Regions from separate parts of the Homo sapiens genome. Here region 1 is linked to region 2. The links come from fine-mapping of genetic effects on gene expression. Tissue or cell type: cerebellum. Region 2 holds a variant in brackets; the other region holds the start of a gene. All regions are shown on one strand. Distances are between the middles of the regions.

The links. PIP is the estimated chance that this variant, and not a neighbour inherited with it, causes the effect.
Region 1: it holds the start of TSPAN18, and the variant in region 2 is fine-mapped to the expression of TSPAN18 in cerebellum (GTEx, PIP above 0.99). The same link has a PIP of 0.9 or more in cerebellar hemisphere.

What each region holds. Positions count from the first base shown.
Region 1 is chr11:44,723,314-44,731,415 of GRCh38, reverse strand. It overlaps TSPAN18 (tetraspanin 18), which reads right to left and starts at 4,454. Exons shown (of 10, transcript NM_130783.5): 1 at 4,129-4,454. All of the region lies in intron 2 of TSPAN18-AS1 (TSPAN18 antisense RNA 1), which reads left to right. RefSeq lists enhancers at 1,949-2,449, 2,450-2,952, 4,668-4,837, 4,204-5,065, 5,066-5,926 and silencers at 3,322-3,491, 4,328-4,477.
Region 2 is chr11:44,908,696-44,916,797 of GRCh38, reverse strand. TSPAN18 (tetraspanin 18) reads right to left here. Exons shown (of 10, transcript NM_130783.5): 5 at 6,899-7,093. Among named protein-coding and RNA genes, the nearest start is that of TP53I11, 38 kb to the left of the region's middle. RefSeq lists enhancers at 1,123-1,222, 4,935-5,791. The variant C/T (reference allele first, on the strand shown) is at 4,359.

The DNA.
Region 1 (8,102 bases), 190 kb after region 2:
TGGGGTATTACTAGTTCCATTTTACAAATCAGGAAATGGAGGCACCAGGGGTTGAATGGTCTAAGGTCACACAATTGATATGAAGTTATGATAAAGCTAACAGGCAAATCCAGGCAGTTTAACCACCACGCACTGCTGCCTCTAAAGAAATAGAGAAACCGAGGCTCAGAGAGAGGCTGTGACTCACACAAGGCCACATCGCTCCATCTGTAACAGTATCAGGGCTGGAACACCAGTCTCCTAATGCCTAGTTCAGCTACCTTTCTGCTCCATCCTGTTGCCTTTTGTACACACTTGCCCACCACCAGTGAACATGTTTTTGCTCATCTCCAAGTTGTTGAATTCACTAATTAAGCCAGCAGTCTTGGGTGCAGACCAGGGGCAAGAGCTGAATCTTAAGACAACAAGTACCCAGATGAAAGACCAGCCCTGCCAGCTGCAAACACAGGCTCACCATCTTACTCTCCCATTCTTTATAAAAAGTGTTTCAAAAGCCAAGTGCAGTGGCTCACGCCTGTAATCTCAGCACTTTGGGAGGCCGAGGCAGGTGAATCACGAGGTCAGGAGTTTGCGACCAGCCTGACCAACATGGTGAAACCCGTCTCTACTAAAAATTCAAAAAAAATTAGCCAGGTGTGGTGGCACACACCTGTAATCCCAGCTACTTGGGAGGCTGAGGCAGGAGAATCGCTTGAACTCGGGAGGCAGAGGTTGCAGTGAGCCAAGATCGCACCACTGCACTCCAGCCTGGGCGACAGAGCAAGACTGTCTCTCAAAAAAAAAAAAAAAAAGTGTTTCATGATCCACCCCCACTCCCTCAGATGGAGCACTAATGCAGGTCCAAGGTGCCAGCCCGGGTGGCAGGAGGAGCCCAAGCTGGTACATTTGCTCAATGGCATCAGGTGGTAGAAACGCCTGATCAATGGGCGTCATCTGCTCAGTGGGACCAGAGTGCTGGTTTCCAAGGCCCCCTCCCTGTGCTGCACCCCAGCTGAGCATGAACAAATGTTCCTGATTTTCCCTCTCAATGGCTGATGAAATAGACCAGAAAAGCAGCCCTCTGGAAAGGGAGAGGTCCCTAAAACCTGCACCCCAGGAACTGAAAGGGCTCTTCCCAAGAAGAGTGGGGAGCGAGCCTGCAGACTAACATGGGGCTCCCAGCAGGGACTGGTTACAGACATTCCCCTCTCTACCCAAAACTGCTGGGCACTTTGTCCTTCAGCTCTGATGGCAGGAGCTGGTTTCTGAAGCTGCTGCATTCACTCAACGCAGGATTTTGCTGTGTACAGGCGGGCAGAGAGAGGCAAGCCAGCCCGGAGAGGCACCTTCCACTGAATGGAAGGCAGAAGGAATGGAGCAGGGCTGCCCAGCCCCCTAAAAGGTTAGACTCTCCTGCTCTAAGTTGCAAGATAGCTCAGAATCTCCTCAGCCAACATATTCATTTTACAGACGGAGGAAGCAGGCTCAAGAGGGGAAATAACCTGCCCAAGGCCACACGGATGACTCAGAAGAGCTAGATTTCAAATCTGCTATTTTCCCTCTTCCTGGCACCCCCTCCCACACATCCTTGAATTAATCCTGTGTCCCTACCCAGCACCCTGCCCTCCAACACACCCCTCAGACCATTAAAATCTCATTTTTTAAAGGGCAGAGGGTTCCTTCCTGGACTCAGCCCAAGGTGTCCTAAACCCAACCCCAAGGTATCCTAAACCCAACTAACTTCGGCTTCTAGAAAGTGTCCTGGAGCTTTCAATGATGTGCTACCATTTCAGACTGGGGTTGGGTAAAAGCACCACATATACTGGCTGTTTGAATGGGTTTGGGGACAAGGGAGACAAGGAAACAGAGTGCCCAAGACTTGAAATGTTGCTAAATCAGAGATCTTGGAGTTTGCCTGGGAGAAGACTGAGCCCACACAAGATACTTTAAGCCCAAACACAGACTTTAGTAGCCCTTGGGGACCTTCAACTCCCTCTCCAATTCAGGAAAAGTGGGGTGGGGGTAGGGAGAAGAGGGGAGGGACAGAACACGGGAAACGCTGGCCTTCTAGGGGCCCCATGCTCCCAGGCAGGTTCCAAGGCAGGGCTGGTCCATGCAGGCTTCCCTCCACAGAAAAACAAGAGTCACTAAAAGCAAAACACAACAAAAAAAAACTTCTTTTGTTTTCCAGCCCCCTGGAATGTCTTAAAGACCTATCCAGACACAGCAGGCTTCTCCACCCTTTCCTTTCTCTCCTCTCTCCTCCTCCTCTTCTATTCAAAATAAAAATCATGCTGATCTGTCTTTATGGCAACTTTGTCCTGGAGCATTTCAGTAGCATCCAACAAAAACATGTGGCAGACTACATTGAACAGAGGAACCTCATCTCTTTCAGGGACCCCCATTTCCCCCACCTTTGTAAGGGACATTAAGGACATGGGAGCAGGAGGGGGGCTGCCCAAGGAGCACAGGTTACCAGCTAAGAGAAAGATGAAAACTTCTACCAACCACAATGAGGCCACGGCACAATCTATGATTTGCTCCTTTGCACTCACTTGGGGTGATGGGAGGAGGGAGGGAACTGGAGAGAAAGATGAGGCAATAGTCCCTCCAATGTCCCTTCAATGTTAGCCCCGCACATGACAAAGATGACAGTCCTCACAGATGCCAGCAGCCGTCGACTTCCCAAGGCACAGACACACAGACTCAACATACAGGGACCCTGAGGCCAGACAACTGGGACCCAGGGCAGATTTCCACCAATAATTGTGAAATGACCAGAAGAATGTGGCCTAGAGACCACAGACCCAGGGGATGAGGGTGGGGGCCAGGGCTCGTTGACTGCTGAGAAATTTAACACTTCTGCCTGGACTGCTGAAGTCTTTAAGGCCCCATCCCCCACCGCCCGCCCTGTGCCTCCCAGTTTACTTGTGCCCAGAGAGAGGATACCCCAAGACCCCCATCCTGCCTTCACCAGACAGGGATTCGACCAGATCCAGGAAACAAAGGTGCAACTTTTACAAAAAGGGTGCATGCATTTTGGGGTTTGGGTTTCTGCAACTCCAAAAACCGTCAAAAAGTTAATTCCCCAACCCACTCTCTCTGCACCAATTCGCAGTTGTAGTTTCTTACATCTTTTTCTGGGGGTAAATTTCTTACTCATCCATTTGCCCTGGCAGCCTTCCCGAGAAAAATCACATCCTGACTCCTAGCCTTTCCAGCCCACGGCGCAGTTATAACTGTGAACCTTTCGCCTCACTCTTGGTCCCGCTCCCCCGTCTGGCTAGTGTAGGGCGGGCTCCTCGGGGCGGGACCCCGCGTAAGTTGGGTGTCTGTGGTCCCTGCGTCCTGGATGTCGGCGCGGTTGCCTCGCAGGAGCCAGAACGCGCTTCCTGCTGGCGAGGGCCGGGGCAGTGCGCCCCCTGGCGGGAGCCCAGTCACCTCACTCCAGCAGGACCCGGAGCCGGCGCGATCCCACCCGAGCCGAGCACCGTCCCAACTGGCTCCCACTGCCCCCTAAATCTGGACGTGCCCGAGCCTCCCACCCACCCAGCACTCCATGGAGTCTCCACTTCCCCAAACCGCACACACCTAAGGAATAAGGGGGGTCCTGGAGGAACGAGTGGCGCCTCCGCCCCGCCCCGCCCCGCTGCCAGGGACCCCAAAGGCAGCCCGCCCTCCATGCAGCTGCCGGGCCCCACAGCCCTCCCGGCCCCGATCGCCGCTCCCAGTCCCTGGTCCCTCACTGTCTTACCGGGTGGCGTGGCGAGCAGCCCCTTTCCGGGCGCAGCCCTGGCCGAAACCCCGAACCTTGTAACCACACCTGCCACCCCGCGCCGTTCTCCAGAAGCCCCCACTCCTCCACCCGGAGCACTGGGAGCCCACCGGCTCTGCACCTGTCCTGGGCGCAGCCCCCGGCCCTCAGCGGACTCCGGGCAGGCACGGGGTGGAGACCGTCCCCGGCCCCCCAGCCCCCGCGTGCTAGTTTGAGTGGAACTTGGTTGCCGGGCTTCCGTCCTGGGATCCCTACTCCACCCCAATTCCCCGCCGCGTCCAGCAGCACCCCCGGGGCGGCGCGCGGGGGGGTCCCCAGGTCCCCGGGGGCGCGGCGGCGGCGTGCGGAGGGCACGGAGGTGCGGAGCCCCATACCTTCCAGCGGCGGCTGCCGGACCCCGCGCCAAATCCCGCCGGCGGCCGGGGGGAAACTTTCCTGGTCGGAGGGGCGCGCTCGCAACTTGCCCGGCGCCGGCTGCCTTCCCGGCGGTGGCGGCGCGTCCGGGGACCCGCAGCGCGAGGCGGCGGCGCTCGCTCGGGGCTCGGGGCCGGGACCGGGGCCGGGGCCGGGGCCGGGGCCGGGGCCGGGGCTGGGGCCGGGGCCGGGGCTGGGGCTCGGGCGGCCTCGCGCGGCTCCGCGGTGGATCGCTCGGCGCTACGTCCGCCCCGCAGCCTGGAGCCCCGCGACGCCGGCGGCAGCTGCACGCCCGCCAGCCCGCCGGCCCCACCTCCGCCGCCGTCCGTCCCTCCCCTCCCCCGCCCTCCCTCCCCCTCCCCAAACCTCCGCCCCTCCCGGCTCCAGACGCCGTTGCTGCCGAGAAGCGCGTCTCCTCTGCGGGCTGCCCCTCGCCTCCCGCCAGCCTCCGCCTCCTCCTCCAACCCCGCGTCCAGGCCTTGTCTGGGGGTCCCTGGGCCCACCCTCTGCCCATCTCCCCTTCCTCCGCCTCCGACCACCTCCCGCTCTGCTCGCGGGCCCTCTCTGCGTCTGAATTCGGAAGATCGTTGCGGGAGTGGGGAGAGGGGCATGCTGGACCCGAAGTGTTTATTCCAGGGGAACTTTCAGCTGACCCCGGGGCCCAAACGCAGGGGTTGGGGTGAGATCCTCGGTCCTGATCGGGCTCCTGGGCTTCCCGCTGCCGGGGGAAGTACCTGTTGAAAGCCTGGGGAACTCACCCTCCTCTGACTTGCAGATAAGAAAGGGGACTTCCTGCATGGAGGGGCCTGACCCCAGGTCAGATGCAAATGACTTGATTGCAAGGGGCCAGATCTGTGTCTCCGGCCTCAGGGCTGAGGTTCTTGCGGGGCTGGGGAGCTTATCTTTTCTTCTCTGTACTGCTGCCACAGCAGCACTGGCTCCCAACCCCTGACATGACTTGCCTGAGACTTTTAACCTCTGAGCCTCCTCTAAACAACTACCCGACCCTGCCCCAGACAAAACGGACAAGCAAGCAGATCAAAACTGACAGCCCAAGTGAAAGTACTGATGACAGGGGCTCGGGTCGCCCACTCCTCTTCCCTTGGCAACTCTGTTTTGAGTCCCAGCTTGAAGCTTCCACACCCCATCCCCGTGGGCCCTAGGCATTCAAGCACACATCAGCTCTGCAGGAGGCCCCTTGGCCAGCTGATTCTCACTAAGGGGTGACTGATAGGAAGGAGTTGACCCTACTCCTGTCTTGTATATGGATGTTGGTAGTCAGGCCACTGGGCAGAGTTTGGGGGGAGGGGGATCTTCTTGTTTTGTTTTTGTTTTGTTTTTGAGACAAGGTCTCGCTCTGCTGACCAGGCTGGACAAGCCTGGTCAACAAGCACAGCTCACTGTAGCCCGACCTCCTGCACGGCTTACTGTAGGCTCGACCTCCTGGGCTCAAGCAATCCAATCCTTCCAACTCAGCCCCCTCGAGTAGCTGGGACCAGAGGCATGTGCCATCATGCCTGGCTAATGTTTTCTGTTGTTTTTGGTGTGTGTGTGTGTGTGTGTGTGTGTGTGTGTGTGTGTGTGCGTGTGTGTTTTGTAGAGCTGGACTCTTACCATGTTGCCCAGGCTGGTCTCCAATTCCTGGCCTCAAGTGATCCTCCCACCTCAGTCTCCCAAAGTGCTGAGATGACAGACGTAGCCACTGCACCCAGCCACCAGCCAGAGTTTTGAGAGGCAGGAAGTGGCTGCCTTTCCTTGCCCACATTCCAGGAAATGGATTCGTCCCTGTAAGGGGATGTCCCTGTAAGGACTTCAGGGATGTCTGGTCCTTTAAAGAACTTCACCGCGTCACCGGGACTCTTAGAGTAGGCACGTGGCTGGAAGAAAAATCCCTGGATCCGCGGTTTCAAAGGGACCCAGAGTGAGCAAAGCTTCACCCAAGGGGAGGAAGTCCCTAATGGTGGAATTTCTATAAGAGGAGGACAAGGAGAAGGGCTCCACATTCACCCTTCAGCTGCCAAAACAGAATGGAGGGTGGAGGCTGAACACCCCACAGGCCCTGCACTTGTGGAATGCTGCTGGGAGAGGCCCCGTGTGAGCCTCCTTGGACACCAGGCGCCACATACATTTAAAGAGGAAAAACGGGAAGCCCACAGCAAGGGTGCTGGAGCTGGGGAAGTGGAGACCAGAGACAGGCAGAGAGAGGGATAGAGTCTCTAAGGGTCTGGGGCTTGGCAGAACGGGGCAGGCGCAGGGGAAGAGAGTGCAGACCCGCTGCACAACTTAGACAACCAGCTCGGTCCCTGACTCCAGTTCCAAGTCAGTTTCCTGGACCTCAGCCTCTCTCCAGCCTCCATGGAGGACCTGGCCCTATCTGTGCATTAGCTAAGGACATCTGCTGAATAGGCTTCTCTAAATCAACTCTTATTTTTTCATTCTTTTTTAATTTACTTAAGTGAGCTTGTTTTTAAAAAGATATGTTAAATTATTACCATAAATGGAAAGCCAGCATCACATTACTATAAATAGAAGGTAACCATCAAAATAAATACAATGAAAATAAGTGTTATTAAATTCTAACAATGTATCTTTAACCACAATAATAATAATACAGTCTAACAAGATACTGCTGCCTGAGGAGGTGTTGAAGCTGAGGTCCCACTTTCTCTTTGAAAGGAAGGTTACCAAAGGCTAGAAAGGTGTTAAAGACACATTAGCAACAAACTCTTCATCAAGAGCATTGATGAAAAGAGAATTGGGAAGGGACCCCCTCCACTCCCACTCCTCACCAGGTCAATTAGGGTATTGGAGGCCCTTGGATTACCTCCAATGACCTTAATTTCCTTGAACATCTCGAATGTCCTCTCAATTGGGAAACATAATTCTATGTATTGGTGCAAAAGTAATTGTGGGCTGGGTGCAGTGGCTCACACCTGTAATCCCAACACTTTGGGAGGCCTAGGTGGGTGGATCACGAGGTCAGGAGATTGAAACCCTCCTGGCCAACATGGTGAAACCCCGTCTCTACTAAAAATACAAAAATTAGCTGGGCATGGCAGCACGTGCCTGTAATCCTAGCTATTCGGGAGGCTGAGGCAGGAGAATTGCTTGAACCCGAGAGGCAGAGGTTGCAGTGAGCCGACATTGCGCCACTGAACTCCAGCCTGGCGACAGAGCTAGACTCTGTCTCAAAAAAAAAAAAAGAAAAAAGTAATTGTGGATCTCATCATTGAATGTAATGGCGAGAACCACAATTACTTTTGTACCAACCTTATATTAGGCCAAAAAAGTACTTTATTTTTTTAAAGTTAGGCGCCCGAAAAATTTAGTCCTGGACAAGATAAGGCTGACTCGGGTTACAGGAAGACCGCACCTCCCTCTCACAAGGTAATCTTGAGGAAATCCCTCCCTTCTCTGGCCTCGGTCCTTACATCTGTAAAATGGAGGCTTGGGCAAATGGCCCATAGAATCCCTTTGGCTGTTTGATGAAAGCAAGTAAGACACCAAGATTGTGGCTTATCAGGAAACTTAGAGGGTGAAGTCTCCACCAAGGAGAGGGGCTAAAGAGGGGAGAAGCTGGGAAGGAACGAAAGAGCAGGTGGTGGGGCTGTGGATGGATGGGCAGTCCTCAGGAGGGAGAAGGAGCAGTGAAGGCCAGAGCCGACCCACTGGAGTCTAGGTTGGCAGAAACCCGGAAGTGGCCTGGCCTGAAAGTTCTAAAAAGATTCGGGAAGGAAACTTGTGGAGAATTCACTGTAATCCAACCACTTCATTTCACCAATAGGGAAACTGAGGAAGAAACATAGACTAGATTCTCATCATGGTTAAGAGCTGGGCATTGAACCCAGACCTCCTGACTCCCAGGCCAGGGTGCTTTCAATACCTCTGGAATTGGGGCATCTAGTGGAAGTGGTTCTTCTGAAAATACTCACCT
Region 2 (8,102 bases):
CCCAGGCAGCAGCCAGACCTGCTCTCTGGGGTCCCAGTCGTTAGGACCGCCTGCCTGCCTGCCTGCCCCCGATGTGCCAGGCTGGAAGGAGGCAAAGGGTGTTGGGCTTCAAGTCAGGACACCTCAGGGCCCACCTTGTCTGTCCTCGTGTGTCATGGGACAACCACTCATACAAACCCCTTCCAGCCTCAGTTTTCTTGCCAGAAAAATGGGGATGTGGAGACCCACTTCTGGGGATTCCCCGTGGGGAATCACGAGGCATGTGAAAGCATTTCCCCTGTTGGAAATGAGCCAAGCAGAGCTTGGCATTGGGCTCTCATGTGCAGAAGGGGAGTGAATGTGGGCCACGAGCAGGATCCTCTGTGGCCTCCGAGGCCCGGCTCCTGGTGATGCACTGGCCTCCTCACAGATGCTCTGTGGGCTGCTGACAATACCTTCAGGCGTCTCTCTCCTGGAATGTGCCTCTTGTGATCAGAGGAAGATTTCTGTCACTTTATCCCCACCCCAGGGAGACCCCAGTCCAATTCCCTCCCTGATTCTTCAGCATCCACAGCGGCTGCCTTCTAGAGGTCCCGAGGCCTCTCCAAACTGTGTGGGCCAGGGTCCACCTTAGTGAGCGCCTCGGGAGGAGTATAGAATCTGTCCATTCAGCACACGGACATAAAACATCTCCGAGGCCTGGCAAGTGGGTTTTAGTTTTTTAAGTGTCCAAACCTAAAGAGAGCCCCTTGCTTCAGCAAAGCAGCCCAGCCCGTGGCGGGGATGTGTCACTCCTCAATCCTGCGTTTTGCTGGCTGGTTTCTGTCCCCAGCCACCACATCAAGTCTGCTTCAGCCCTCAGATGCACCATGGGCTCCTGAGCCCCTGAGGTCTCACTGGGCTCCAGCTGCTCCGACACAGGCTTCTGCTCTCACAGGGGACCGCCGGGCACCGGACGCTGTTCTCACGGTCTCTTTTTTGTGTAGTTTCCCCTTTTCGAAGTTGAGGAAGCTGAAGCTGGAGAAGGGAAGTGACTACTCCACAGGTGCAGAGCTCTTTGGAGCTTTGCAGAAAGAACACTCCCCTCCTGGCCCAGCTGCCTTTTCAGAGCGCCAGGCTGTGTCTGCTCCCTGATGCAGGGCGAGGCTCAGGGATTGCTCTGTCACTCTCTTCTGAGCCCATGAGTCTGTCTCCACAGGTCAGCAGGTTGCCTGGCTGAGGTTTGCTGGGTGGCCTGCTGGCACATCTGGATGAGGGACACCAGGCCAGATGCTCCTGTGCTTCCTGAAGAAGGGACTGACCTCCAGCTGAGGTCAGGGAGCAGAGTTCCCCAACCAGTGCAGAGTATGATGAGGGTGGGGTGGGGGAAGCCTCCTGTGCCCCAGGTCACAATGCCCATGGTCCATTCTGCCACTCCTACAATTCTCATTTCCAGGAGGGTGGGGGGCTCTGGGCTCAGTGGCTGCTGAGTGATGTGTTTTCTGCCTCTGCAGCCTCGCCTCCCCTGTGACAGTGACGGAGGCCGCTGGCAGGGGTCCTGGCATTTCCATTTGGCTGGTGATGGATGGCCATCCGCTTCCATTACATGGGTCCTCTATGAGGAGCCCCTCCCCACCCTCTGCCCTCTCACTGGAGCCACTGGCAGGTCCCCAGGCTGGCAAGGAGCAGCCTCAGAAATGGTTTCCATCCACGGCAATGAGCTGGAGCTGGCGTGCCCACCAGCCTCGGCCTGGACAGTGATAAATAATGGACGAAGCAGATCACAGGCCTCGTGTACTCTGTGTGCCCGTCACTCTGGGATGTGTGTGTGCCATCCAGGATGACTGCGCATGGCTTCCACGAGGTAATGCAGGTGCGGTGCTTCTCGCAAGACCGGCATGACATGAGAGCTGCTCAGATGGTTACTTAGAGCCCAGAGGAAGCACATCCTTCCCGAAGACAAGTGCTGGTGTGGGCGGCTCTGGAAAAATAGCAATAGCTACCTGCTGAGTCCTTGCTACCCAGACACTGCGGATCTTACATGGATCATCTCATCAAGCCCTCTCATCTAGTGAGACAGATGCTATTATCAGCAACACCCCCATTTTACTGAGAGCGGATTGTGGCTGAGAGGAACAGTACTCGGCCCAAGCTGGCATAGCTGGTGGGCAGTACCTCTGGGACTTCACCCCAAGAACTCTGATTGCAGAACACAGCCTCTCATCACCATGTTACCCTGGAAGCCACAGGAGCCCCGAGGTCTTATGGTTTCTACATGGCCTGCAAAGCCTCCTGAGGCTCAGCACCAATTCTTCTAGTTTCCCATTTATAGAGTGCTTAGGCATCCCACAAACACAGCCAAGCAAAACATGCATTTCCCACTGGATCATGAATGCAACACTATGGCTGGGAAGGAAGTATGATTATCCTCATTTTGTATATGAGGAATCTAAGGTTTAGAGTGGTTAAGTGACCAGCCCCAGGTCATACAGCCAGGAAATGACAGAGCAGGAGTTAGAGCCCGGGCTTTTCTGACTCCAAAGTCCATGCTCTTAGCCAAACCTCTGCTACCACCTCCTCTCTGTTCCTTGGCTCCGGGGCTGTTTACTGAGCACCTGCTCTGTGCCAGGCACTGTGCTAGGTATTGGCAAATAAATGCATACAAGGCAGACTCAGTCCCCATCTTCATGGAGTTTCCATTGAGCTGAAGCATCAGGAGATGAGATATAAGAATAAACCTGGGAAGCCGTGGACTGGAGGAAGTGGGCCTCCCCAAGCCCAAGGCCTGGGCATGACTTGAGTATGTGGGAGTGTGAATCCTGTGAACCAAAGTGCAAGGCTGAGGTGCCCATGGCAGTCACAATGCCACCTCTGCCAACTCGCCCTTCTCCAGCATGAAAATGTCCTCCTGCTTAAGACAGTTTACCAGTGTTAAAGTCCTTTGGGGAATTCCCCTGGACCCAGCCATTCCTGGGGCTTCCCCTCATCAAGGCCTTTCCCAGGGTTTGCATCCCATTTGCCTAAGGACACCTTTGTCAGCCATTCCTGATCCTCTAATTTGCATCACTTTCCTTAGGATGGAAAAATTAGCAAAGGGGAGGAAACTGCTATGTTGTCTAGTTGGGAACATTTCCAGGCTTTTCTAACCCATCTGCTTATAGGCAATGTCTGCTCACAGTTCCCATTTCTAATAAATATTTACCAAATTTACATACTGCATGTACAATTCAGCTCATTTATCTTTTTTGAATATACTCATCTCTTTTTGCTGTTCTTTTTTCCAGTTGAGCTTGCCTTCATTATAAAATATTTTTAAAATTAGAATTTTTAAATAAGTTGGCTTAAAAAAATCCTTGAAATACTCAAAGGTAAGCAAATGAGAAAAAGGGATGCCACAAATTTTCAATAGGAGGCTGAAATTGTCCTATTGCATGTGAGTGCTGTAATACTGATCAACACGAGTATTTGGGAAATGGACCTTTAGATAGATAAATTGATCATTAGGTGGTCTGGTCATTAGACTGATTGTCCCCAGGTCCTGTAGGACTTCAGTCTCAGAGCAGAGGGAAGGGGACAGTCAGCCCCATCTCAAGGCCTCCTTGCTTTGTGAACCTTTGAGCCAGGTTTCCTGGGCTGACTAAAGTCACTCTTTTGGCCCCTCTCAAGACAAGCCTTCTCTCCTTTCTGACAGGCTGAGAAAGCAGTGAAAGGCTTCTAGAAGGATCCCAGAAGCTGCCAGGGGTGAGGCTCCATGCCCTCTTCGGTTGGAACCACCACACAGTTAGGTCCAGGTTCAGCCGGGAAGGGAGAAGTGGTTTTTCTTATTTTTTAGGGCATAAACCTTTTTGAAAACCTTCCAGAAACTTTGGTGCCTTTCTCTGGAAACACTCACAGAACCCCCCCAACCCCCATGCACACAACACACATGCACACACAACACACATGTGCACACACAGGCACATGTGCACATGCATATATATGTGCACCCACGCACACATGACACCCATGCACATGTAACGCCCATGCACGTATAACACCCATGCATGCATAACACCCATGCACATACAACACCCATGCACGTGTACATATGCACAAAGCAATGCACACATGTACACACAAACACACACGATAGAACACAACATACATGCACATACAACACACGTGCACATACACACTGTACCCATACACATGAGTATGCACACAATCCATGTATACACAATACACATACACAGGACCTGACATAACATAACATTTTGCATATAATTTTAGGTAAATTTTGGAGTCCATTCCAGGCTATCCAGAGCCTGTGGATAGCCCTGGTCTGGGAGCCAGAAGACCTTGATCCAAGCGTCCTTTGCCTCTGACCCACACTGTGACCTCAGGCTTGTGTGGGCGGGGCC[C/T]TAGAGAGGGGAGGGCAAGCAGGGGAAGTGGAGAGAGAGACAGGGAAACGGGGAGGGAGAGATCAGGACAGGGACAAGGAAAGGGCGTAGGAATAAAAACAGAGATCAAGAGAAAGACAAGGCCAAGTGTGTGGTGCCCGCCTGGAATCCCAACACTCTGAGAGGCCGAGGCGGTGGATCATTTGAGCCCAGGAGTTCAAGACCAGCCTGAGCAACATGGTAAAACCCTGTTTCTACAAAAAATACAAAAATTAGCTGGGCGTGACAGTACGTGCCTGTGTTCCCAGCTACTCGGGGGGCTGAGGTGGGAGGATCACTTGAGGCTAGGAGGTTGAGGCTGCAGTGAGCTGAGATCACACTGCTGCACACCAGCTTGGGCCACAGACTGAGACCCTGTCTCGAAAAAAAAAAGGACAGAGATGGGGAGGACAGAGGCAGAGAGGAAAGGGAGCTACACAGAGATAGGCAGAAAGAAGGGGGACAAAGGGAGAGAGGCGGGGGTGGGGAGGGGAAGGGGAAGGATCTGCCATCAGGCCTTGTCGAAGGGCCCCCAGCCTGGCAGCCAGGATCACCTCTCTCGGGAGGATCGTGGACACATCTCCTACCCCTGGGCCTCAGTCCTGCCTCGCATAGCACGGGAGGGAGGACGTCCTGGGGCGGCTGGCAGGTTTGCAGGCAGCCACTTACTGGAGGAGACTAGAGCCGCTCCAGCCTGCTCCCAGCCAAGAACACCAGCCTGGCTTCCTGTCTTGGCTTCAGAGCCGAGCCCATTAACAATGAATGAGTCCCTGGGGGCCGAGGTGAGGAGGGGGAAAGGGAGGCTGGGTCTGTTCTGGGACCCATATCCAAGCTCCTTTTAAAGTCCCCTCGGGCTCCCCAGCCAAGACTTCTGCGAGCACCGTGACAAGCTGTAGAGAATTGTCCACCAGGGGGCGCTCAAAGTTTTTCTTTGTTTCTCTTCAAATGAAGTCTGCAGTGTTTGCGCTGTTGAAGGACAAATAGGCCCAAGGCTCCTTGTCACTCATTTCGCAGCTGACTTCACTTCCTTTGGATGGGGAGCATCTCACCGGGACACAAATGGGGCCGTGCAGTGTGCTCTCGTCTGGGGAGGAGGTATGGTGCCAGGTCTCTCCTCCCAGCACTGCTGGTGCTGGCTTATCTACAGAACCTTGCAAGGGAGCCCCCCAGCCAACCAGCCCAGTTCTCCCTGTCATTTAACTCCGCCCACGAATTCGCCCATGAGGAGCATCCGCAAGCTTACCCAGACACACCCACGCTTCTCTAAACAGGGCTGTTTTTAACTTACCCTGTAGCGGGACTGGGCTCAGCCCAGAAGTTCTCCAAGTCCAGGACCTCTTAGAGAAGACCCATCCACCCAGCACAGGAAAGCAGGCGGAGGCCCCAAGCGCCACCACCCATGGGAATCCAGGAGACTCGAGAACGAGAAGACCCACTGCTTGTCTGGTTTGGCTGTGATCTATAGCTGAGCTGGTCGGCCCCCTCGTTTAACAAGAAGACATGGCTGCTCTGGGAGGTTGGGGAACTAGATGGGAGGCACACCCTTAGGGGATGGAGCAGGGAGTACCCTCAAACCAGGCCTGCCCACTGCCCAGCTCATCCGCACGGCTCGGCTGCCTCCCCTGTGCCTGTCTGTGAGGGAAGGGACCATCACTCCTGGTCCCCGACATATCTTCAGCACCCAGTGAACTACATGCGCATGATAGGAGTTCAAGGGCTACTTACTTGATGAATAAGAAACCTTCAGAGGCCATATCATACCGTTTCAGAATTGCATATCTACAAGGGGAAGGCCTCATCCACTAGGCATCTTAGCGATGTTACTAAGGAGTTATATATTAGAGTTTTTAATAGCAAGCAAGTGGAAAAACATCAAGGTCAATGTCAGTGCTCTCAGCTGACCATGCCTTGGAGAAACCTGGTTGTTCAGACCTGGATGCCAAGGCCCCCGCCATCTGGGCCAGCTCACCCACTGCAGGCACGGGCCCACTGCAAAAGCAGGCTCTGGAAGCTGGGGCCACCAAGGCAGATGGAAAAGGCTGGGGACCGCCCCACCCCTGGAGGTGGACCTATGTGGCACAAACCTTATTCTGAGTTTCCTGGCATGCGGACACAGACTAGGTGTGTGTTAAGCCAAGGGTCCTGGATTGACTGCAGGAAAGCAGCAAAATGAAGTGGGAGAGAGGAAGGGCTACCCCAGGGAGAAAACAGGTCCCAAAGGCATGGGAAGAGGCAGCCTGAGGCACTGCAGGGGCCCTGACCTAGCGTCTGTATCATCCCCTCTGCTGCCAACTCCATGGGACTCTGGGCAAGTTGCTGAATGTCTCAGGGTTTCAGGACCATTGACTACCAAATGAGTGGGGTCAGACGTGCTCATCTCCATGATCCCTTCTGCTTTGACAGCCCGCCCCAGTTTGGGAAGCACTGGTCTGAATGGAAGCCAGGCAGGGCCTGGGAGTCTGCAGCCAATCCCTGACACCCCTCAGAGCACCCATGGATGGGGTGGGGGCTGGGGTACTCACAAATAGCAGCAGACACTTGTTCTCACGGACGGCCCCGCAGCAGCCCAGGAAGCCGAGCAGAAAGAGCAGGCCCCCCATGGCCAGGAGGATGTAGGCGCCCGTGAGGAGCAGAGGATTGGCAGCCACGATCTCCCGGAAGCCGGTGGGGTCCACCATGACCCAGATGCCGATGGCCAGCAGGCAGGCCCCGCCCAGCTGCTCGGGCCAGTGGAGGAGTTGGGAGGAGAAACAGGCAGAAAGGGAGGTTAGGCACTTCTGACCCACCACTCCCCTGAGCCAGCCCCAGGGTCAGAGGCATCAAGCACTAGGTGAGCCAGGCAGGAATTCACCTGCGGCGAGAGCCAGTGAGTCCCAGCCGCACCTTGAATTGCTTTTAATTTTTCTAGCTGCCGTGACCTTAAGTGCAACACGCATCCTCTAAATCCAATTTCCGACCCAAGCCCCACCTCGGGCTGTATCACATAAAGGCTATTTGCCAATTTTATCTTCTCTTGAAATGTCAGACCTGTAGGATTAGGAGGTCATCTAGTCCAACCCTCTGATTCCATACAGAGGGAACCAACAACTTGCTGAAGGTCACACAGCAAGTTCATGGCAGAGTCAGAGTTTGGTCGCAGGCCCCCTGACTCCAGCCTCAACACCCTAAACAAAGGTCCATGAACATGCTCTGAGTCAGCCCTATGCTGTGTTTGCACCACCCATGCTAGGGGCTGGGAAGACACAGACCAAGTCATCGTCATTGTCCCCCATGGGACTCTCAGTGAGGTTCCAACTTGAGAGTGGGCTCCCCACTCTCAAATCCATAGCTCAAAAGATTTCTTATTTATGTCTCCATCAACATGGGCTCTCTATGCCTTATTTATCTTTGGAAAGAGGCAGCGTAGTCTAGAGAGAGAGCTGTGCCACTTATTAGTTGTGTGACCCTAGGCAAGTGTCAAAATCTGTCTGAGCCTTTTAGCTTCCTTGTGGTCAAAAGAAGACTCAAACACCTTCATCCTAAGGCAGCCCTAAGGAAGAAAGGATAGAAGGCGTTTAGCAGATTTCAATAAATATCTGCTCCATTTTTCTTTTTCTTTCTTTCTTTCTTTCTTTCTTTCTTTCTTTCTTTCTTTCTTTCTTTCTTTCTTTCTCCTTTCTCTCTCTCTCTCTCTCTCTTTCTTTCTTTTTTGAGACAGTCTTGCTCTGCTACCCAGGCTGGAGTGCA